Homo sapiens: one gene and its partners. The protein of the gene in region 1 purifies or fractionates together with the protein of each later gene. This does not show direct contact. Each region holds a gene or a part of one and is shown in the gene's direction. Other genes may lie near its edges. The genes, in order: EPB41L1, CHD9, MEX3C, VANGL2, SHQ1, PPRC1 and USP34.

Evidence for each region.
Region 2: the proteins of EPB41L1 (region 1) and CHD9 purify together in Homo sapiens (co-immunoprecipitation; one large-scale study listed by IntAct). This does not show direct contact.
Region 3: the proteins of EPB41L1 (region 1) and MEX3C purify together in Homo sapiens (co-immunoprecipitation; one large-scale study listed by IntAct). This does not show direct contact.
Region 4: the proteins of EPB41L1 (region 1) and VANGL2 purify together in Homo sapiens (co-immunoprecipitation; 2 studies listed by BioGRID and IntAct, with this or other methods). This does not show direct contact.
Region 5: the proteins of EPB41L1 (region 1) and SHQ1 purify together in Homo sapiens (co-immunoprecipitation; one large-scale study listed by IntAct). This does not show direct contact.
Region 6: the proteins of EPB41L1 (region 1) and PPRC1 purify together in Homo sapiens (co-immunoprecipitation; one large-scale study listed by IntAct). This does not show direct contact.
Region 7: the proteins of EPB41L1 (region 1) and USP34 purify together in Homo sapiens (co-immunoprecipitation; one large-scale study listed by IntAct). This does not show direct contact.

Annotation. Positions count from the first base shown.
Region 1 is NC_000020.11:36,189,240-36,192,739, forward strand, and holds part of EPB41L1 (band 4.1-like protein 1), read left to right. Parts: intron 1-1,037; coding exon 1,038-1,135; intron 1,136-1,382; coding exon 1,383-1,558; intron 1,559-3,500. UniProt on the Homo sapiens protein: May function to confer stability and plasticity to neuronal membrane via multiple interactions, including the spectrin-actin-based cytoskeleton, integral membrane channels and membrane-associated guanylate kinases.
Region 2 is NC_000016.10:53,302,991-53,306,490, forward strand, and holds part of CHD9 (chromodomain-helicase-DNA-binding protein 9), read left to right. Parts: intron 1-729; coding exon 730-1,635; intron 1,636-3,243; coding exon of another isoform or gene 3,244-3,246; coding exon 3,247-3,407; intron 3,408-3,500. UniProt on the Homo sapiens protein: Probable ATP-dependent chromatin-remodeling factor. Acts as a transcriptional coactivator for PPARA and possibly other nuclear receptors. Has DNA-dependent ATPase activity and binds to A/T-rich DNA.
Region 3 is NC_000018.10:51,174,050-51,177,365, reverse strand, and holds the end of MEX3C (RNA-binding E3 ubiquitin-protein ligase MEX3C), read left to right. Parts: coding exon 1-1,015; 3' UTR 1,016-2,816; downstream 2,817-3,316. UniProt on the Homo sapiens protein: E3 ubiquitin ligase responsible for the post-transcriptional regulation of common HLA-A allotypes. Binds to the 3' UTR of HLA-A2 mRNA, and regulates its levels by promoting mRNA decay.
Region 4 is NC_000001.11:160,426,867-160,429,170, forward strand, and holds the end of VANGL2 (vang-like protein 2), read left to right. Parts: 3' UTR 1-1,804; downstream 1,805-2,304. UniProt on the Homo sapiens protein: Involved in the control of early morphogenesis and patterning of both axial midline structures and the development of neural plate. Plays a role in the regulation of planar cell polarity, particularly in the orientation of stereociliary bundles in the cochlea.
Region 5 is NC_000003.12:72,810,446-72,813,945, reverse strand, and holds part of SHQ1 (protein SHQ1 homolog), read left to right. Parts: exon of another isoform or gene 1-1,151; coding exon 1,152-1,275; intron 1,276-3,500. UniProt on the Homo sapiens protein: Required for the quantitative accumulation of H/ACA ribonucleoproteins (RNPs), including telomerase, probably through the stabilization of DKC1, from the time of its synthesis until its association with NOP10, NHP2, and NAF1 at the nascent H/ACA RNA.
Region 6 is NC_000010.11:102,139,540-102,143,039, forward strand, and holds part of PPRC1 (peroxisome proliferator-activated receptor gamma coactivator-related protein 1), read left to right. Parts: coding exon 1-2,465; intron 2,466-3,500. UniProt on the Homo sapiens protein: Acts as a coactivator during transcriptional activation of nuclear genes related to mitochondrial biogenesis and cell growth. Involved in the transcription coactivation of CREB and NRF1 target genes.
Region 7 is NC_000002.12:61,461,088-61,464,587, reverse strand, and holds part of USP34 (ubiquitin carboxyl-terminal hydrolase 34), read left to right. Parts: intron 1-3,500. UniProt on the Homo sapiens protein: Ubiquitin hydrolase that can remove conjugated ubiquitin from AXIN1 and AXIN2, thereby acting as a regulator of Wnt signaling pathway.

The DNA of each region.
Region 1 (3,500 bases):
TGCTCTCCAGGTCATTTTCCTCATAGCTGCTGGAGAGATCTTAAAAAGTCCCTTAAATCAGATCATGGCAAGCCCACTCCCCCTTCCCATCCACACCCTTGCTTACACCTTTCAGGAACTCTCTTTAGCTCTTGAGCTAAACTTCAAACTCCTTCCATGGCCACCTACCTCTCCCACCTATCCCTTGCCACACTGCCCCATGCCCAAGGTGCTTTAGCCTCTTCGGCCTTGAGATCTTTGAATAAGTCGAGCTCTTTCCTGCCTGAGTGCTTCGCATTTGATGTTTCCTTTACCTGAAAGTATCTCCCCCTCTCGCTTCTCACATAGCTGGTTCCTTCCCATTCTTCAAATGTCAGCTCAAGATCACCTAGATCTAGGTCTAGAGGGGATCCCCTGCTCTTCCTTAGATGACAGGAGCCCCTATGCCTTCCCAGTTCTGCTGCACCACACATCTCCCTTCATTCCCCTTGTAGCCCTGATCAGTGTCTGCAATTATCTTGTTTGCTTATTTGTTATTGGAGGTCCCCTTCCCCTACTAGAATCTTCTGCCTTGGTCTCCATGTATCTCTAGTGTTTAGCACTGGACCCGTCACAGAGTAAGGGCTCAATCACCCTTATTGATTCAGTGAATGAACAGGCCAAAGTCGCAGATGCCTGAGAAGAGTTCAGAAAGAATGACTCACGTCTGTAATCCCAGCATTTTGGGAGGCTGAGGTGGGAGGACTGCTTGAGCCCAGGAGTTGGAGACCAGCCTAGGCAACATAGTGAGACTCATTCTCTACAAAAAATTAGCTGGTGTGGTGTCGTCTGACTGTAGTCCTGGCTACTTGGGAGGCTGAGGCAGGAGGATCTCTTGAGCCCAGGAATTCAAGGTTACAGTGAGCTATGATTGCGCCACTGTACTCCACCCTGGGCAAATGATCGAGACCCTGTGTCTCAAAAAAACATTAAACAAATAAAATAAAAAACACAAAGAATGGGCTAGTGGCGAGAGTGAGCTCAGGCCCTGCCTCTAACCTGCCCTTTTGGTTTTCCAGTATGAGCAATTTGAGAGCACAATTGGCTTTAAGCTCCCAAACCACCGGTCAGCCAAGAGACTGTGGAAGGTCTGCATCGAGCATCATACATTCTTCCGGTGAGCCTGACCTTGGATGGGGTAATGGGGATGGGGCAGAGGCCATGTGTATGGAGGGGAGCAGGGGGAGGAGTTAGTGAGAACTCTAGGAAAGTCCTCCACCCTTTCCCCAAGTCCCTCCCTTCCTGGACCACTTTGAATTGTTGTAGTTGGTGGAGTAGTGGGATGAAAGGCCAGCTGTGGTCTAACCTTGGGCCTGGCAGTGCAGGTCTGATTCCTCCTCCTCCCCTGCATCCCTCTGCTGCAGGCTGGTGTCCCCTGAGCCCCCACCCAAGGGCTTCCTGGTGATGGGCTCCAAGTTCCGGTACAGTGGGAGGACCCAGGCACAGACTCGCCAGGCCAGCGCCCTCATTGACCGGCCTGCACCCTTCTTTGAGCGTTCTTCCAGCAAACGGTACACCATGTCCCGCAGCCTTGATGGAGGTATGGCCCAAATTGGAGGGCTGGGCGGGGAATGGTCTTCAGAGGGAACTGGGGGAGTGGGCATGCTGGGTTCTGCAGAATGAGCAGGAAAATGGTAGATGCATCCCAAGTTCATCTGCACCAGGCTGGCCCCTCAAGACCAGTGCTGTCCCTGGGCAGCTCTTGGTGGCTTAGTCCCAACCTAGAGCTCACTCCCACTTGAGATGTGATACTACCACTCTCTGGATTCCCCACAACTTCCCTGAGTCGTGGTCTTTTGGGGTCCCAGGTTTAGCCATATGGTTTGGGCCACCTACCCAAGAAGCTTAGCAATCCACCAGTCTAACCTGTGGTCTAACCTTGGGCCTGGCAGTGCAGGTCTGATTCACCCTCCTCCCCTGCATCCCTCTGCTGCAGGCTGGTGTCCCTTACACTGGTCATCATCATACTAGGAGAATAGTGTCTTATGACTGCAGTGTGGAGCTGATGATGCCTTATCTGCTGGGAGGCCAGGGCATCGTTCTTGGTCATTCTTTTGGTTCTACTAGGTTCTGGGCTGATTGACAATCTAACCACATGGCACTCTCCACTGTCCCCATTTCTATTGGATTGATGGGTGCCCTTAACATCAATGAAAACTGGCCCTATATAGTCCTGTAGCAAGCAGATAGGGCTTAAAATGTGGTGCACAAACCACGTTTCATCAGAGTCGCCTGTGAGATTGTTAAGCAAGCACGAAAATTCCCAGGTTTTGCCCCAGACCTACTAAATCAGCACCCTTCAGGGCCCAAGTCTCTCCCCAGGATGTACACACTAGAGTTTGTAGGTGATGTTCGGAAGTCACATGGGTCACTGGGGAGATTCAGAATTATGCAGATCTGAGTTCAAATCTCGGCTTGACAGTCACCGTGGGCTGTTCTCTGGACACTGGAAGTGGTTCATAAATATCTGAATGAATGGATGGGTGACCTTAAGCAACTTATTTAACTCCCTGAGCCTATTTCCTCTTCTACAAAATACATAGTACCTACTTTGCTGTGTTCTAGGGAAAACTAAATGAGATCATGCCTAGAAAATATTCTGTGGCACATAGTAGCACCTTAAGAAATTGTACCCATCATTATTGTTTTTAGGTTTGTAGAGAGTGGCTTAAAGGTGGGAAGTGGGGGCTGGGCATGGTGACTCATGCCTGTAATCCCAGCACTTTGGGAGGCCAAGGCGGGCAGATCACCTGAGGTCAGGAGTTCGAGACCAGCCTGACCAATATGATGAAACCCCATCTCTACTAAAAATACAAAAATTAGCCGGGCGTGGTGGCATGCACCTGTAATCTCAGCTACTCGGGAGGCTGAAACAGGAGAATTGCTTGGACCTGGGAGGCAGAGGTTGCAGTGAGCTCACACCATTGCATTCCAGCCTGGGCAACAAAGCGAGACTCCATCTCAAAAAAAATAAAAAAAATAAAAAATAAAAAGGCCAGGCACAGTGGCTCACACCTATAATCCCAACACTTCGGGAAGCCAAGGCAGGTGGATCACGAGGTCCAGAGATCAAGACCATCCTGGCCAACATGGTGAAACCTCGTCTCTACTAAAAATACAAAGATTAGCCAGGCATGGTGGCAGGCGCCTGTAGTCCCAGCTACTCGGGAGCTCAGGCAGGAGAATCACTTGAACCCGGGAGATGAAGGTTGCAGTGAGCCAAGATTGCACCGCCACTGTACTCTAGCCTGGTGACAGAGCAAGACTCCGTCTCAAAAAAAAAAAAAAAAAAAAAAAGGTGGAAAGTGGGGACTTGGGTAGGGAAACCGTGGATACTCCCAGAACACCTTGGGGCAGGCCTCCAGGCAAGTTAGTTCTACTTATATTTTCTGAGTGTTATATGTGTGCCAGGCCTTGTGTTGGGTCCTGGGTATAGTATTTAGAGTGAATAGGTTTGGTCCTTTCCTTTGAGGAGCTCATAG
Region 2 (3,500 bases), on another chromosome or scaffold:
TAGAAATTTGAGAAAGCCCTTGTTGCCCCTGTGAGTTCACTCCAATGTCCTCTTACCTTTTGCAGTTTGAGATATGCCAGCTTACATTTGTTTATGGAGTATCACTTAACACAAGCTTGTCCAACCTGTGGCCCAGGACAGCTTTGAATGCGGCCCATCACAAATTCGTAAACTTTCTTAAAATATTATGAGTTTTTTTTTTTTTTTTGCAATTTTTTTAAGCTCATCAGCTATCGTTAGTGTTAGTGTATTTTATATGTGGCCCAATACAATTCCTCTTACAATGCAGCCCAGGGAAGCCAAAAGATTGGACAACCCTGAACACTTCTAATTTATAAGTGAGTTTGAGCAAGTGTTTGTGTTATTAAGACAAATGTTATTAAATGCATCGCTCATAGGGAATTTCTTAAAATTCCCAGTTCTATTAATGTACTTCCAAAATAATCTTATGTTTTACATTAACATCCAGTATTTTATGTTACATGATTTTTAGTACTTACTTTTAAAACTTTCTCCTTTTTAAAGCTTTTACTGAAATTTCAAAATTTCAAAATCCTCACTGAATTTCTCCTCACTGAAAAGAAATTCTGGAAACTATACAGTGATATTGCATGGAGGCACATTTTAGAAATGGTATTGTTATAAATATATAAAGATGTATTTATAATGATTTATTTATAAATAAAGGATTTTTGAGATTAATATTTTTGTCCTTGTTTCAATATGTAGAATTGGTGGATCCAAATATTTTTATCCAGCCCATCACAGAAGAACGTGCTTCTAGGACTTTGTATCGCATTGAACTTCTAAGGAAAGTACGGGAACAGGCCCTTCGACATCCACAGTTGTTTGAACGCTTGAAGCTTTGCCATCCAAATCCAGATTTACCAGTCTGGTGGGAATGTGGCCCTCATGATAGGGATTTGCTTATTGGTGCTGCCAAACACGGGGTGAGCCGAACAGACTATCACATTCTTCGTGATCCTGAACTCTCATTTATGGCAGCTCAGAGGAACTACAGTCAAAGTAAGATGGCTCATTCAAGGACTTCTACCCCACTTCTACAGCAATATCAAGTAGCACTTTCTGCTTCTCCTCTTACCTCTCTACCTAGGCTCCTAGATGCTAAAGGTATTATTCTAGAGGAGATGAAAGTTAAAAGTGAAAACCTTAAAGAGGAGCCTCAGTCTTCTGAAGAAGAATCTATGTCTTCTGTGGAAACCAGGACACTAATAAAATCTGAGCCTGTAAGTCCAAAGAATGGTGTTTTACCACAGGCTACTGGAGACCAGAAATCTGGTGGAAAATGTGAAACAGACAGACGCATGGTTGCAGCCAGAACAGAACCCCTAACTCCAAACCCAGCTTCTAAGAAACCAAGAGTCCACAAAAGGGGATCAGAATCTAGTTCTGATTCTGACTCAGATTCTGAGAGATCATCTTGTTCTTCCAGATCATCTTCTTCCTCATCATCCTCTTCTTGCTCCCACTCTCGATCAGGCTCTAGTTCTTCTTCATCTTCATCTTGTTCTTCAGCATCTTCTTCATCCTCTTCCTCCACCTCTTCCTCCTCCTCCTCCTCTTCATCTTCATCAGAAGAAAGTGACAGTGATGAAGAAGAAGCCCAAAAACGAGGTACTATGCATAAAATAATTCTACTTTTTTAACATAACTTTTCTTTTCTTTTCTTTTCTTTTCTTTTCTTTTTTTTTTTTTTTTTTGAGATGGAGTTTTGCTCTTGTTGCCCAGGCTGGAGTGCAATGGCGCAATCTCAGCTCACTTCAACCTCCACCTCCTGGGTTCAAGCGACTCTCCTGCCTCAGCCTCCCAAGTAGCTGGGATTACAGGCATGTGCCACCATGCCTGGCTAATTTTGTATTTTTAGTAGAGACGGGGTTTCTCCATGTTGGTCAGGCTGGTCTCAAACTCCCGACCTCAGGTGATCTACCCGCCTCAGCCTCCCAAAGTGCTGAGATTACAGGCATGAGCCACCAGGCCTGGCCTAATATAACTTTTCAAGTGAAAATGAAAAGAACTCGTTTCAGGTAACTTAAGGATGTTTAAAATTGTTTGCTTACAGTGTTTTTTTGAAACGGAGTCTCGCTCTGTCGCCCAGGCTGGAGTGCAATGGCACGATCTCAGCTCACTGCAACCTCTGTCTCCCAGGTTCAAGCGATTCTCCTGCCTCAGCCTCCTGAGTAGCTAGGATTACAGGCACCCACCACCATGTCCAGCTAATTTTTGTATTTTTGTAGAGACAGGGTTTCACCATGTTGGCCAGGCTGGTCTCGAACTCCTGACCTTAGGTGATCCGCCCGCCTTAGCCTCCCAAAGTGCTGGGATTACAGGCATAAGCCACCACACCTGGCCTGTTTGCTTAAGTTTTATATATACAAATGTTCTTAGGAAAGCACTATTGGGAAGAAAACTAGTTACTGATACAAATTCCCTGTTTAATATTCAAGGCATTACACAGTAGATTAATCAGGCAATTGAATTAGAAATTTTACACAGTAGTTTATTTGTGATTGTCTTAAATTGAATATTTTTCCCAGGAACAAGTTGATTAGTGAACAAGTAAAAGATAATATTATATAGCAGTCACCAAGAGTCTTAAGCTAATGAGAATATCATAAGCCATTTATTTGTCAGCCATGACAAATGCTTGTCAGCAGAACAGTGTTTGGTGGTCCCCTTCTGCAGGAACCCTTGCAGCAGTCCACCAGTTCAGGGGCAAGAAAATGAGTCCAATTAAACATGAGCAGGAGCTGGGGTCTCTTGTAACAACTCCATAGGCATAACTTTCGGGGTTGCCGCAAGAAACATGCCCAATTCTAAGAGTTACAAGAGTCACCTAATCAAGAGAATTATGGTATCCTCATCAGGTATTTATAGTTCTGCCAATCCAGATGAAGTCTACCAATCAGGAATCATTTTAAAAATAGTGAGTAATGAAGTCAGGCGTAGTGCACACCTGTAATCTGAGCTACTTGAGAAGCTGAGGCAGGAGTATTGCTTGAGCCCAGGAGTTCTGTCCAGGCTGTGCAACACAGCAAGACCCTGTCTCTTAATAATAATGATAGGTGCTTTTTTTATATTCTAGGTGATTTTTTCTCTTTTTTTATCATTTGTTTTTACTTCTAACATTTTCATTTTCAGGTGTTTCTGAATAATTATGTAAAATCCTTATATATAAAACTATTTTATGTAGTCTTTTTAAAAAATGATTATAATTGTTTTTAGCAGAAAGTACTACTCACATGAAAGCCTATGATGAAGAAAGCGTCGCGTCACTGAGCACTACCCAGGATGAGACTCAGGATAGTTTTCAGATGAACAATGGGACACCAGAGTCTGCTTATATCTTACAAGGTGGATATATGCTGGCAGCCTCGTATTGGCCAAAGGTAAAGAAATAATTTCTTATTGGGATAGGTCATTTTTTAGTATTTTTCTATATTGCTTCAATGGTAGATATTCTTACTATGTGGAAACATAGG
Region 3 (3,316 bases), on another chromosome or scaffold:
TCTGCCCGGTCAAACCACCGTCCAAGTCAGGGTCCCTTATCGTGTGGTAGGATTAGTGGTTGGACCCAAAGGAGCAACTATTAAAAGAATTCAGCAGCAGACCCACACCTACATAGTAACTCCGAGCAGAGATAAGGAACCTGTCTTTGAAGTGACAGGGATGCCTGAAAATGTTGACCGAGCACGGGAAGAAATAGAAATGCATATTGCCATGCGTACAGGAAACTATATAGAGCTCAATGAAGAGAATGATTTCCATTACAATGGTACCGATGTAAGCTTTGAAGGTGGCACTCTTGGCTCTGCGTGGCTCTCCTCCAATCCTGTTCCTCCTAGCCGCGCAAGAATGATATCCAATTATCGAAATGATAGTTCCAGTTCTCTAGGAAGTGGCTCTACAGATTCCTACTTTGGAAGCAATAGGCTGGCTGACTTTAGTCCAACAAGCCCATTTAGCACAGGAAACTTCTGGTTTGGAGATACACTACCATCTGTAGGCTCAGAAGACCTAGCAGTTGACTCTCCTGCCTTTGACTCTTTACCAACATCTGCTCAAACTATCTGGACTCCATTTGAACCAGTTAACCCACTCTCTGGCTTTGGGAGTGATCCTTCTGGTAACATGAAGACTCAGCGCAGAGGAAGTCAGCCATCTACTCCTCGTCTGTCTCCTACATTTCCTGAGAGCATAGAACATCCACTTGCTCGGAGGGTTAGGAGCGACCCACCTAGTACAGGCAACCATGTTGGCCTTCCAATATATATCCCTGCTTTTTCTAATGGTACCAATAGTTACTCCTCTTCCAATGGTGGTTCCACCTCTAGCTCACCTCCAGAATCAAGACGAAAGCACGACTGTGTGATTTGCTTTGAGAATGAGGTTATTGCTGCCCTAGTTCCATGTGGCCACAACCTCTTCTGCATGGAATGTGCCAACAAGATCTGTGAAAAGAGAACGCCATCATGTCCAGTTTGCCAGACAGCTGTTACTCAGGCAATCCAAATTCACTCTTAACTATATATATATACATAAATACTATATCTCTATATGGACTCGTAAAGGCATGGGTATAATGGTACCCCCCAGTAAACTTCCTAATGATTTCTTATGACTGTTATCAGGCTTTATTGGGATTAGGCTAAAGTTGTTAGTAAACTTATAAAAGGCTGCTATGGTAACACTAAACCTAAGTGGTCTCTTGTCTATTAGTTTGGTTTGAATTATTAGTACTATCCTGTAGACCCAGAGACATAGTTTATATAAGAATTGCTAAAGCTGAAGTTCAACTTGGCTGAGTGAAGATAATCATAGGTTGTGTGAGCCTATGAAAAAGTGTATACGTCTAAGATTTCAAAACAATGGGTCCCAAAGCCTAACCACTTTAAGAGTTTATGGAGGGTACTTGGCATTACAGACGATTCATACACTTCCAGTGCTGCCTTCTTTACACTGCCAGTTTTGACAAAACAGGTTTGTTTTTTATTTTACAACAACATATGCCTAATTCTGCAGGATTGCAAGTAACTTTTTAATGCATTGTGATTACTTATTGGTAATGATAGGGCTGATGGCAGTTTACTAGATCACTGGTTATAATTTGGGACAAAAACTGCTACATCAACTTTCATCTCGCCCAGAGTGCTCAAGGCTGGTATGATCAGTGGATCAGGAATGCAATTGTGAATTCCTGCCCATTGCCTCTCTTGGTGAATGTGGAAATGGCCACCTGGGTTTTCCCATATCAGGAAGGGCTTTGGGATGGCACCTATATTGGCTGATAATTGAGGATGCAAACATTCCATTCATTAGTGTGATCGAGCTGTTAATTTTTAGACTATAGATCAAAATGTGAAACATTTTATGTTCAATCCATATTTGTCTTGCACATTATAAATATATTTTTATTTTTTAGTAATTTAGGGGAGGGAGGAGGGAGAAAGGGATAATGATGCCCTTGGCATAATTCACAAAAGCAGCTGTGACAACCTCCAATCAGTTTACTTCATTTCAAAACTATTTCCAATCACAAGGAAAGATTTATTTAAAATATACTCGTACATTTCACCTGTGGATGTCTATAACTTCATCCTCAGTATGTTCCCAAATCTGTGCTGGCATTGAAAGGACAAAACATTATACTAGTGGGTTTTTCTACTAATTATTTTTTGAAGCATTATTTTCCCAACACAAAAGAGCTTTTTTCTCGGTATAATGAAAATTGAAATCCTATGTGTATTCAATAGTAAATAGACAAATTTTATTTTTTATTTCCACTTGAAGAGTTACATTTCGTATAAAAGTTTACAAATAACGGTTTTTATTTTGATTTTTTCAGTATAAAAAAAGTTGCCTTGATGGCATATTATGATGTAATGCTAATTGCTTGTAGGATAGTAAATGGTCAGTATTGAAACCTAATCTCTAGCTGCCGTCTTGTAGATATGAACGAATGTTCACCAAGCATGTATTTTGTATTTTGTTGCATTGTACACTGCAACTAATAAGCCAAGGAATCGACATATATTAGGTGCGTGTACTGTTTCTAAAAACCACAAACTAAGAATGATAAATTATCAATATAGTTTAGTATTTGCTAATTTTACTACACTCTTTTGTTATGTATATGTAGGGAAGTCATAGGGATTATAAATTCAATTTGAGTAAAATTTAAAACCATATATTTTATGATAAAGGGCCTTTAACTTAAGATGGCCAAAGCACTGATATTATATATTTGCTGTAAAGAGAATTATAAGAGTTTTATTTTTCTGATATTAAAAGTTACTTAATAAAGACTTGTTTCCATTAACTTGAATGTATTCTCCTTGGTGTTTTTCATATAATCATCAGTTTATACTAGAAGATTAGTTAACAGAATCGAAAATTTTCTTTTATAGACTCCCTATTCCCCAACCAGCTATCTGTGCTCACTCTTGTAGTTATTTTGTGTGTGTGTGCTCTTGGTTTTGAATGTGTCGCTTATGTTCCTGTCCAAGTTTAGTTTTTTCTTTAAATGAGTGTTAAATTACAGTAAACTGGAAATTTGGCTGGTTGTAGATTTAGTTGCATATTTGTGTAGTTGACCACAAACCACTACTGATCTAATTGTAAATAGTTAATGACTTTTTTTATACATTATTACTTGAAATCCTGAATTCAACTTAAATTCTACTTGGTTTGCATCCTTTGTTTATGGATTTTTGTCTTTTTATCACCAAATCTGTAAAACAAGTTCTTTTCTAATACAAAAGCACCAGTTTACCTTTCAGTAAAAACTACCTTCTGAAAAATTGACAAAAATATTTCTCCATTTAT
Region 4 (2,304 bases), on another chromosome or scaffold:
GACTGGTTGGTACTTACCTTGCAGAGCACATCCTGGGATAAGATCCCCAGTGTCTCCCCTGGGAGGCTCCCCCTCTGTGTAGCACCAGCCCTGGGAATGATGGAGCCTAGTGATCGGGGTTTCTCCTGCTGTCCTTTCTGCAAAAGTTCACTTGTTTACCCACCGCATGCTAGAGAGGAGCTCATTGGCCAATGCTTACCTTGTCCCCAAAGGGGTGGGTTGTGGAGCTCACTTAGGCAGGGCCTCTGGCTGGGGCCAGGGTTATGAGATAGGCCTGTATGAAATATGTCCTGTTCTGGGGGTCTGTCTCTTTTCTTCTCTTCAAAAACTTTGTGTCAGAGAGTCCCTTCTGAGTCACATAAATACCTCACTATCCTGGAAAACAGGGCCTGGATGGTGACTGGGGTCATTGCCTTTGTGGACAGGATGGAGTGTGGTGTGGTCTGAGGAGCAGGTTGGGGTGGGGGAGAGGGAAAGGATTTGGGATCTTAGTTGCTGCCCTAGGTTAGGGGCTGGGGAGTGTTTATTTTAAGATCCTGCCATGTTTTTAATCACTGTGATTTTTTTTTCATTCCCCTTTCCTAAAAAAAATTTTTTGCCTCCAACTCTCTAAGCACTAAGGGCTGTGCCTGAGAATGGTAGCATTTTGGTCTTTTGCTTCAGAACTGTGGTATCTTTGTCTTTTTTCATTATTATTATTATTATTATTATTATTATTACTATTGTTTTTTAAAATGTCAGGATGAATTGTCAGACATATGGCCATGTGTTTGTCCTCTGCTTCTCCCCTGTGGGAAGTTGTCTCCATGCTGTGAACTGCTGTGGGGTGTGCAGCTGACTCAGTCCCTCTGAGCAGTTTCCCCACTGTGTCTGTCCCATCATGCGCTGGATCTGCTCATTCTCCTGCTGTGGGGGTATGCCCACCTCTTACCCCCTTGACACCATAGGGCTGCTGTGGCTGGGCCTCACCAGCACTGTCTTTTGTGTGACTCATGGCATCCTCGTTCATCCCCACCGTGCCTAGCAGGCCTTCCTTTTCACCACCTCGGAACGCTTGCCTTTCCTCCCTCCACAACAGGACGCTGTGCCTCAGTCCTTCACCTACCTCGCCACTCTGCCACTGTCCCCATTGGTCCTTTCTCCTAAACTGGTCTTTGTGCTCTCTTTGTTTTTTCTTATTTCCCTCTTGTCTCTCATTTTTTCTTCCCATTCCCCTCCCATTTCAGCCCTTAACTTTTCTCTTTCCCATCTCCACTCAGTATTCCAATGGCAAACCCTGATGATGTAACACCTGCGATGAGACATCGGACTCTCCGGAACTTTCTCATCTGACACGTCTTTTTCCCAGGGTTCGTACTTCTCCTCCATTGGTCCCAGGCTAACTCCCCTGTTCCTCTGTGGTGTCTGTCAGTCCGTCTGTCTTCTCTTTCCTCTGCCCTTCCCACAGGGCAGTATCTGCTGATGGATTCAGTCCTGGTGTGTGATTGTTGTGATTTGTTCTTCCGTGCGCAAAAGGAAGAGGGCTTTTTGAGTCCCTTCCAAGTGAGATTGTAAATGTAGAATTTTCCACTGTTGGATCTAGATTTTTTTTCCTTTTTTTTGGGGGGGTGGGGTTACAGAGCTGAGACCTTGTGCATGCATGTAGAAAATTGTAAAATGTAAATTTTTTTTAATATATAAAAAGCTTGTTTCTACAGTTTGCAGTGGATCTAAACATTACGGCAATTTTAGGATTTTTTTCTTAAACATAGGAACTAAAACTGTACAAATTTTTTTTATATAAAATAAAGACATTTGACTTTTGTGGGGGCATTCTGTTGCTTTTCTTTCTTTACAGGAATGGGAGCAAATGAGGGCCAGGGAATAATGAATATATTCCTTGTTAGGGAGGGAATGGGCAGGAGGGGGCAGTGTGAGCTCATCATTGCTCTGCAGGCCTTCAGGGTGTGTTGGAGAGAAATGGGAAAATGAAAAAGGAAATTGCTTATTCTGAATCCTGATTCTAAAGAGAGAGAAACAACAATGTGAGGGCTTAACCACTTCCTGGTGTAGTTGTCAGGATAGAGAAAGAAAGATTACTTCCTGGGTCCACCCTCCTGAGCAAGCTTGTGTCTGTATGGCCTCTAGGGCAGGAGTGGGTTTCTAAAACGTATTTCTAAAACATAAAGTGCCATAGGAATTTCAGGGGATAGTTGAGATTTCAGTCAGTGGTGACAGCCCATCACAATTCATTGAGACAAGTTTCTGTAGTATATATATTAGTTCTAAATATGTAGAGAGTTCAGTGCTCTGTTGTCACTGTAA
Region 5 (3,500 bases), on another chromosome or scaffold:
ATACCGTTCAAGATACAACACCTTTTTTCCTAGAAATCAGTTTGATAAGCAAAAGCAAATTACTCAAGTAAATGTCTTGTATTACCCATGTCCAGTGCAAAAAAAAAAAAAAAAAGAAAAAGAGGAGAGGAAACTGAACATACTTTACTAAAGAGTTCTATGTATTTTTTTTTTTTTTTTTTTTTGAGATGGTGTCTCGCTCTGTCACCTAGGCTGGAGTGCAGTGGCGCGATCTTGGCTCACTGCAAGCTCCGCCTCCTGGGTTCACGCCATTCTCCTGCCTCAGCTTCCCGAGTAGCTGGGACTACAGGCACCTGCCACCACGCCCGGCTAATTTTGTAGTTTTAGTAGAGACGGGGTTTCATCGTGTTAGCCAGGGTGGTCTCGATCTCCTGGCCTTGTGGTCCGCCCGTCGGCCTCCCAAAGTGCTGAGATCACAGGCATGAGCCACCGCACCCGGCCTTTTTTTTTTTTTTTTTTGAGATGGAGTCTCACTCTATTGTCCAGGCTGGAGTGCAGTAGCGCCATCTTGACTCACTGCAGCCTCTGCCTCCCAGGATCGAGCTATTCTCTGCTTCACCCTCTTGAGTAGCTGGGATTACAGGTGCCTGTCACCACACCTGGCTAATTTTTGTATTTTTAGTAGAGACGGGGTTTTGCCATGTTGGCCAGGGAGGTCTCGAACTCCTGACCTCAGGTGATCCACCCGCCTGGAGTCCCAAAGTGCTTTACAGGCATGAGCCACCACTCCCGGTGAGTTCTACATTTTTGATCTGTGCCATCTTGAATAGCCTTAGCTGACAAAAACATGAAATGTAAATTATATTAAAATGTCCTTTATGTGCATCTGTATTTTGTTAATGCCATGTGTTTTAGATTCTTATTTGTAATCTTTAGGACTTTATTTAAAAGCTTTCTTGTGACATTTGTGATGTATTGATAGTGTGAGAAATTACAAAAACTAAGATTCTGTTTTATTGTAAAGTATACAAAAAGAATCTTATTTCATGGTTTTATGTTTCTCTTCTACTTGGCTTCACAATGATCCGAACTTGCAGCTTTTAAATGAGAAAAGCTTCCTATTTCATTGTGTACTTTTGTTTGTGTAACATTTTGTGGAAATGACTGCTTATTAAAATGACACTTCACAGACTTGGACTAACGTTCATGATATCATGGTGTCTTTTGGAAGAAGGGTGTTGTGTTACCCACTCTATCGCCATTTCAAGCTGGTGATGAAGGCCTACAGGGACACTATAAAGATATTGCAACTGGGTAAGATATTACTGTACTTGCAAATTTGGGAGGGAAAAAGTTGTAAGTTTTTAGTCTGTGAAGATATAATAATGATTTTTGCTTTTTTACTGTATATAAATAAGTAATGAAAAATGAATCCAACCACTTTTAAAGTATAGAATTCCTGTGTATAAGACATATGTAGATAAGTAATTGCATAGAGGCATAATAAAGACTCTTTTCCGAGAGGAGTAAGGAAGGTAAACAGAGAAGGCACACATAGTATTGCAAACCGTTTTACATTATAATAGCTGCATCATTCAGTATTTCTTGGCTGCCTATAATCTTCTAGGCTCTATGGTGGGACTGTGGGTCTAATAATAAAGAAGGCAGAAAAGTTCCCTGCTCTGTTGAAGTTTACAGTTTTGTCAGACAGATGATGGGTAAGTTAGCAATTCCAAAGAGAGTGAAAAGTACTCTGCTGGGAGAAGTCCAGGGATCGTTTAGGAGGGGACATGTAACCTAGATTCGGCATGTCAAGAAAGATTTTCCAACAAAAAGCTCAGCTACTCTGAGCACTTTTGACTTGCTAAATTCAACCTGAAAAGACAAACACTCGTTAGCTTTAAGGATGTGGAAAATTCTGGGCTCTGAAACAAATTCCAAAGTGCCCATAGTATCATCATTAGAATAAGTATATAATTTCCAAGATAATGACTTTGAAGGGGGCAACATCCATTTGTATGTATTAGTTCTGGCACATTTATTTAAAAGTCACTTTTAGTACTTTATGGTCATTTCTTATATTCTCCCCCTGGGGAGACTCATCATTCCTTTGCCCTTAGATAAAAGTGTTTCTGGGAGCTTGGTTTTCAGACTTCAGAATAAGAAGGGGAAAGAAAGGAAGTTCTTCCTTCTACCTCCAGGTGACTTCACTGGCCTAAAGAAGAGAATCACATCTCAAATGTTTTGTCTCACCTGGAAGTGTACTTCGCTTTCTGTGTAACCTGTAGTCTTCTTGCCCTGGTGGTGGGGATGGGGGAAGAAAATCATGTTTGAAATAGATTATTTTAAAGTAGACAGTAATTGTAAAAATGAATCATGGTTAGATGAAAGATGCCTTTTTATTCATCCAGTTGGTTTAGACTAGCTGTATTTTATTTTGAAGGATTGTTGATTATAGGATGAAAGAGCTATCATTGAGAAATCTATCTTCTTTAACTTAACAGTGGGAAACAAACTGCTTTGTTTTTTCATGTGTTATTTCTTCTTGCCTTCCATCTAAGATATTTTTTGAATTGCTAAAAGTACCTTGGAAAATCAATCTACTATAAATGACTGTGTGAGCCTCAGTTACACGTCACAATTCATTTCTTTTTTAAGTCATGCTAGATTATCTGGGCATTATTCATGGACTTAAACCAGTGAGAATGCAGTTTGCGATTATCCTGTTATATCATGGCTTCCAGATGGAGAATTGGCAAAACCTCCACATGCCTGTTTGCACACACACTCACACACTCTCACTCTCACTCACATATACAGACTATTGCTTGTTACTTTTTATTCTGGGAAGTAATCTAGTTCTTTTGACTTTCATTGGAAAAGTAATCAGTACTATGATTGCATAACCAAAAATAAATTCGATTGCCTTGACTTACACAGGAATCAATTACCCAGTTTTAGTAGGTCAGAATTGAAATTGAGACTTAATTTTTATTCATTATCACTCTGACAAGAAATAGTTTTATCAGCTGTGTTATGATAGTAACATAAAACTTGAAGTAACACACTGGAGGCCTCTGCTAAAAATGAACCTGAACCCTCTATGTACCATGTACAGTGTGTTCTGTGACTAATTTGGGTTGTGGCTAGTTAGTGCTAAAACTGAGGGCTGGGTTGTCTAGAATTTGTGCCAGAAGCTGTAGAGATGACATGTTCTGGATGAGAATCGTCACCTGTCTTTGTACAGGTGGATGGCACGGGGATGCCATTATTGCCGCTGAAGAGGCTCATTTGTTTGAACACCCCATAATTTAAATAAAGGTAGCTCTGGTTTGGCATTTAGTGTTTTCCAAGAATGAATTCATGCCTACTTATAATTCAAAATGCAGTCAGTGTTCACACTTTTTATTATAAAGGTCAGTATAGTGTTCCATAGTTGAAAGTAATGAATAACCCTGGCTCCAAAGAAGGATTGATCTTAAATGGAATGAGCTTTCAAAACCAATGTAGGAATGCTTCAGAAACTACAGAATATTTCA
Region 6 (3,500 bases), on another chromosome or scaffold:
AGTGCTGGAGATTGTGGGGCAGGCAGCCACAGCTGGCGATGACCTGGAGATCCCAGTTGTGGTGCGACAGGTCTCTCCTGGACCCCGGCCTGTGCTCCTGGATGACTCGCTAGAGACTAGTTCTGCCTTGCAGCTGCTTATGCCTACACTGGAGTCAGAGACAGAGGCTGCTGTGCCCAAGGTAACCCTCTGCTCTGAGAAAGAGGGGTTGTCATTGAACTCAGAGGAGAAGCTGGACTCAGCCTGCTTATTGAAGCCCAGGGAGGTCGTGGAGCCGGTGGTGCCCAAGGAGCCTCAGAACCCACCTGCCAATGCAGCACCAGGTTCCCAGAGAGCTCGAAAGGGCAGGAAGAAGAAGAGCAAGGAGCAGCCAGCAGCCTGTGTGGAAGGCTATGCCAGGAGGCTGAGGTCATCTTCTCGCGGGCAGTCTACTGTAGGTACAGAAGTGACCTCTCAGGTAGACAACTTGCAGAAACAGCCTCAGGAAGAACTTCAAAAAGAGTCTGGGCCTCTCCAGGGTAAGGGGAAGCCCCGGGCTTGGGCTCGGGCCTGGGCAGCTGCCTTGGAGAATTCTAGCCCTAAGAACTTGGAGAGAAGTGCTGGACAAAGTAGTCCTGCTAAAGAAGGCCCTCTAGACCTCTACCCAAAGCTGGCTGACACTATCCAAACCAATCCTATACCAACCCATCTCTCATTGGTCGACTCTGCCCAAGCCAGCCCCATGCCAGTTGACTCTGTTGAAGCTGATCCCACTGCAGTTGGCCCTGTTCTAGCTGGCCCTGTACCTGTTGACCCTGGGTTGGTTGACCTTGCTTCAACCAGCTCAGAACTGGTTGAGCCTCTCCCGGCTGAGCCAGTGCTGATCAACCCAGTCCTGGCTGACTCAGCAGCAGTTGACCCTGCAGTGGTTCCCATCTCAGATAACTTGCCACCAGTTGATGCTGTCCCGTCTGGCCCAGCACCAGTTGATCTAGCACTGGTTGACCCTGTTCCTAATGACCTGACTCCAGTTGACCCAGTGCTAGTTAAGTCCAGACCAACTGATCCCAGACGTGGTGCAGTGTCATCAGCCCTGGGGGGTTCAGCACCCCAGCTCCTCGTGGAGTCAGAGTCCTTGGACCCACCAAAGACCATCATCCCTGAAGTCAAAGAGGTTGTGGATTCTCTGAAAATTGAAAGTGGTACCAGTGCTACAACCCATGAAGCCAGACCTCGGCCTCTCAGCTTATCTGAGTACCGGCGACGAAGGCAGCAACGCCAAGCAGAAACAGAAGAGAGAAGTCCACAGCCCCCAACTGGGAAGTGGCCTAGCCTTCCAGAGACTCCCACAGGGCTGGCAGACATCCCTTGTCTTGTCATCCCACCAGCCCCAGCCAAGAAGACAGCTCTGCAGAGAAGCCCTGAAACACCCCTTGAGATTTGCCTTGTGCCTGTAGGTCCCAGCCCTGCTTCTCCTAGTCCTGAGCCACCTGTAAGCAAACCTGTGGCCTCATCTCCCACTGAGCAGGTGCCATCCCAGGAGATGCCACTGTTGGCGAGACCTTCCCCTCCTGTGCAGTCTGTGTCCCCTGCTGTGCCCACACCTCCCTCGATGTCTGCTGCCCTGCCTTTCCCTGCAGGTGGGCTTGGCATGCCCCCCAGTCTGCCCCCACCTCCCTTGCAGCCTCCTAGTCTTCCATTGTCTATGGGGCCAGTACTACCTGATCCGTTTACTCACTATGCCCCCTTGCCATCCTGGCCTTGTTATCCTCATGTGTCCCCTTCTGGCTATCCTTGCCTGCCCCCCCCACCAACGGTGCCCCTAGTGTCTGGTACTCCTGGTGCCTATGCCGTGCCTCCCACTTGCAGTGTGCCTTGGGCACCCCCTCCTGCCCCAGTCTCACCTTACAGTTCCACATGTACCTATGGGCCCTTGGGATGGGGCCCAGGGCCTCAACATGCTCCATTCTGGTCTACTGTTCCCCCACCTCCTTTGCCTCCAGCCTCCATTGGGAGAGCTGTTCCCCAACCTAAAATGGAGTCTAGGGGCACTCCAGCTGGCCCTCCTGAAAATGTACTTCCCTTGTCGATGGCTCCTCCCCTCAGTCTTGGGCTACCTGGCCATGGAGCTCCTCAGACAGAGCCTACCAAGGTGGAGGTCAAGCCAGTGCCTGCATCTCCCCATCCGAAACACAAGGTGTCTGCCCTGGTGCAAAGTCCCCAGATGAAGGCTCTAGCATGTGTGTCTGCTGAAGGTGTGACTGTTGAGGAGCCTGCATCAGAGAGGCTAAAGCCTGAGACCCAAGAGACCAGGCCCAGGGAGAAGCCCCCCTTGCCTGCTACCAAGGCTGTTCCCACACCAAGGCAGAGCACTGTCCCCAAGCTGCCTGCTGTCCACCCAGCCCGTCTAAGGAAGCTGTCCTTCCTGCCTACCCCACGTACTCAGGGTTCTGAAGATGTGGTACAGGCTTTCATCAGTGAGATTGGTGAGTGACACACAGTTCCCCCATGTAGTCCCCAAGTTGGCTGGGGGACTCTAGAATAGGATAAGCCACCCTGATGAGGCTGGCCTTTGTTGGATTTCTTTGGAGGAGTTTTTTTGTTTTTATTTTGAGATGGAGTCTTGCTCTGTCTCCAGGCTGGAGTGCAGTGGTGCAATCTCGGCTCACTGCCTCCCAGGTTCAAGCAATTCTCCTGCCTCAGCCTCCCAAGTAGCTGGGACTACAGGTGCCCGCCACCACGTCTGGCTAATTTTTCTATTTTTAGTAGAGACGAGGTTTCACTATGTTGGCCAGGTTGGTCTCAATCTCCTGATCTCGTGATCCGCCTACCTCAGCCTCCCAAAGTGCTGGGATTATAGGCGTGAGCCGCTGCACCATGCCTTTTTTTTTTTTTTTTTTTTTTTTTTTTTTTTTTTTGAGATGGAGTCTTCCTCTGTCGCCCAGGCTGGAGTGCAGTGGCGTGATCTCGGCTCACCGCAACCTCCGCCTCCCGGGTTCAAGCGATTCTCCTGCCTCAGCCTCCCCAGTAGCTGGGATTACAGGCACTCACACCCACGCCCGGCTTTTTGTATTTTTAGCAGAGATGAGGTTTCACCATGTTGGCCAGGTTGGTCTCAATCTCCTGACCTCGTGATCCGCCTGCCTCAGCCTCCCAAAGTGCTGGGATTACAGGTGTAAGCCACCGCCCTTGGCCTGTTTTTGTTTTTAAGAGATGAGGTCTCACTGTGTTGCCCAGGCTGGACTTGAACTCCTGGGCTCAAGTGGTCCTCCCACCTCAGCCTTCCAAGTAGCTGGGATTTATAGGCACAGGTGTGTGCCACCGTGCCTGGCTGTGGAGGGTTCTTCAGAGGCAGAGCCCTGGGTTGGTTTGAATCCTTCATGCTTTGTGCTGCTACCTTGGTTCACTTAGTACAGAGGGCAGGGGGAGTGGAAAGGGAGAAGTGAGATGATTTGGGGGCTTCCTGGGACCTGTGTACTAAGTTGATAGGGGCTCGTTTTCAATCCTGTGTTGTGTGCCTC
Region 7 (3,500 bases), on another chromosome or scaffold:
TATGTGTTGTAGATTTTACTCTGTGTATTCGTTTGGTGGGTTATAGTTTACCAAGTTGTCCAAAATGGATAATTCATGTGAGATAGGCAAGAGCAAGTGTTGTATCCCAATACCATTTGGTGAAAAAGTTGAACTTCAGAAAGGATAAGTAGTTTGCCAAGATCACCTGTCAACCTGCATAGTCAAATTTGAGATGGAACTCAGCTACTCCAATATCTGTATTTGCAGAATAATTCTGTTGTGTTTATTTTGTTGGTGGTGGTGTTTTTGAGACGGAGTCTCACTCTGTTGCCCAGGCTGCAGTGCAATGGCACGATCTCAGCTCACTGCAACTTCCACCTCCTTGCTTCAAGTGATTCTCCTGCCTCATCCTCCTGAGTAGCTGGAATTAGAGGCGCCTGCCACCACGCCCAGCTAATGTTTGTATTTTTAGTCGAGACTAATTTTCACCAGTTTGGCCACACTGGTCTTGAACTAATGATGTCAGGTGATCCACCTGCCTCGGCCTTTCAGTGTGTTTTATTTTTAAAGCAGATTACTTTATTGAATAGTTTGTGTTGGGTACTTAAGTACTTTACATGCTTTGCATGCTGCTGATTTAATCAGTTCTTTGAGGGAGGTACTCTGTCATCCTTTTCAGATGAGGGAACTAAGGTTTAGAGAATTTATGTGACTTGCTTAGGGTCACATGTGACTGTTTGGTGGAACCACAGGACTTAATCCCAGATTAGGCTAAGAGTTTTTTTTTTTTTTGAAAAGGAATTTTGTTCCTGTTGCCCAGGCTGGTGTGCAATGGCATGATCTCGGCTCATTGCAACCTCCGCCTCCTGGGTTCAAGCGATTCTCCTGCCTCAGCCTCCTGAGTAGCTGGGATTACAGGCATGCACCACCATGCCTGGCTAATTTTTGTAATTTTAGTCGATGTGGGGTTTCACCATGTTGGCCAGGATGGTCTTGAATTCCTGACCCCAGGTAATCCGCCTCCCTTGGCCTCCCAAAGTGTTGGGTTTAGGGGTGTGAGCCATCCTGCCTGGCCTAAAAGTTCTTACTAGTTAACATTGTATAAATTTTATGATGATCTATCTGAATCACCACTGTTCAGTTGGCAAAGTGAAAATTACTGACCGTGTTTTATGTATCTTCAAAAATTCAGACAAATTTCTGTGATAATTGTAGTAGGAATTCAAAAGTGGTAATAAGTATAGCTGAATAAGAATCTTTTTCATTGAATAAAATTTCAAATTTTTTGATTTTTGATTATTTTTTAAGAGACAGTGTATCACCCATGCTGGGGTGCAGTGGCCCAATTATAGCTCACTGCAGCCTCAAGCTCCTGGGCTCAAGTGATGCTCCTGCCTCAGCCTCCCAAAGTGTTGGGGTATGCTGTACCCGGCTGAGAATCTTTCTTAATACTGTTATTCTGCAGTGAACCGTTTAATAAAACTACATGTTTCCAGAGCTTTTTAGATACTATGAGTATATAGGTACGAAATCAATTAGTAACATAACTTTTTCAGTAGACATTTAATCTAAAGTTGGAATTTTTTTCCCCCCTTTGGAGATGGAGTCTTATTCTGTCATCCAGGCTGGAGTGCAATGAAGTGATTATTGCTTACTATAACTTGACCTCCTGGGCTCAAGTGATTTTCCTGTCTCACCCTCCTGAGTAGCAGGGACTATAGGTGTGTATACCAGCACACCTGGCTGCCTTTTTTTTTTTTTTTTTGGGAAACAGTTTCCCTCTGTCTCCCAGGCTGGAGTGCATTGGTACAGTCTCGGCTCACTGCACCCTCTGCCTTGGGGGGCTCAAGCAGTTCTTGTGCCTCACCCTCCCAAGTAGCTGGGATTATAGGCATGTGCCATCATGCCGGGCTAATTTTTGTATATTTAGTAGAGATGGGGTTTCGCCATGTTGGTCAGGCTGGTCTCAAACTCCTGGCCTCAAGTGATCCGCTTGCCTCAGCCTCCCAGAGTGCTGGGATTACAGGGTGTGAGCTACTTTGTCCGGTTCTCCTGAATTGATTTTTTTTTTTTTTTTGGAGACGGAGTCTTACTCTGTGGCCCAGGCTGGAGTGCAGTGGCATGATCTTGGCTCACTTCAACCTCCTCTTCCTGGGTTCAAGCAATTCTCCTGCCTCAGCTTCCCAAGTAGCTGGGATTACAGGTGCGTACCACCATGCCCAGCTAATATTTGTGTTTTTTGTAGGAATGGGGCTTCACTGTTTTGCCCAGGCTGTTCTCAAACTCCTAGCCTCAAGTGATTCACCCACCTCGGCCTCCCAAACTGCTGGGATTACAGGCATGAGCCACCACGCCTGGCTGATTTTCTTTTTTTTTTTTTTCCCCCTGAGATGGAGTCTTGTTCTGTTGCCCCAGGCTGGAGTGCGATGGCCTGATCTTGGCTCACTGCAACCTCCGCCTCCCGGGTTCAAGCGATTTTCCTGCCTCAACCTCCTGGGTAGCTGTGATTACAGGCAACTGCCACCATGCCTGACTAATTTTTGTTACGTTTAGTAGAGATGAGGTTTCACCATGTTGGCCAGGCTGGTCTTGAACTCCTGACCTCATGATCTGCCCACCTCGGCCCCCTAAAATGCTGTGACTACAGGTGTGAGCCACCGCGTCTGGCTGAAAACATGTTTTTGTATAAGATTTCATTTTATATAAAATTTAATATATCTGTTTCCAGTTCTCCCATATTATGAATAATGCCGCAAATGTACATCTTTCTACTTAAATCTTTTATCTACATCCCTGGTTCTTTTAGATTTCTAGACGTGAGTTTACTGTGTCAAAAAATATAAACATTTTTCATTATTTTCATACTGTTTGCTTGCCAGAAAGGATATATTGATCTTTTAGTCGTAGTCGTGCCTGTGTAAGGGCACTTTCACCTGTCTTGAATATTATCCTTTAGAAAGTGTTATTTTAGCAGGGCATGGTGATGTGTGCCTGTAGTATTCCCAGCTACTCAGGAGGCTGAGGTGGGAGGATCACTTGAGCCCTGGAATTCAAGGCTAGCCTGGGCAACATAGCAAGACTTCATCTCTTAAAATAAAAGTTATTTTGGTAGAGAATGTATTAAGCAATTACTAGTAAATTTAACCATTCATATTTTTGTTATTTAATGAATTGTATGTTTTTTTTTCTGTATTTCAGATTTCAGTGTTTTGGGTTTTTTTTTTTATTTTTTTGAGGCGGAATTTCGCTCTTGTTCACTAGGGTGGAGTGCAATGGTGCCATCTCGGCTCACTGCAACCTCTGCCTCCCAGGTTCAAGTGATTCTCCTGCCTCAGACTCCCGAGTAGCTGGGATTACAGGGGCCTGCCACCATGCCTGGCTAATTCTTTTGCATTTTTAGTAGAGACAGGGTTTCATCCTGTTGGCCAGGCTGGTCTTGAACTCCTGAGCTCAAGTCATCCACCTGCCTCAGCCTCCCAAAATGCTGAGATTACAGTTGTGAGCCACCCTGCCCGGCCCCTCTTACCTTCTTTCAAAAT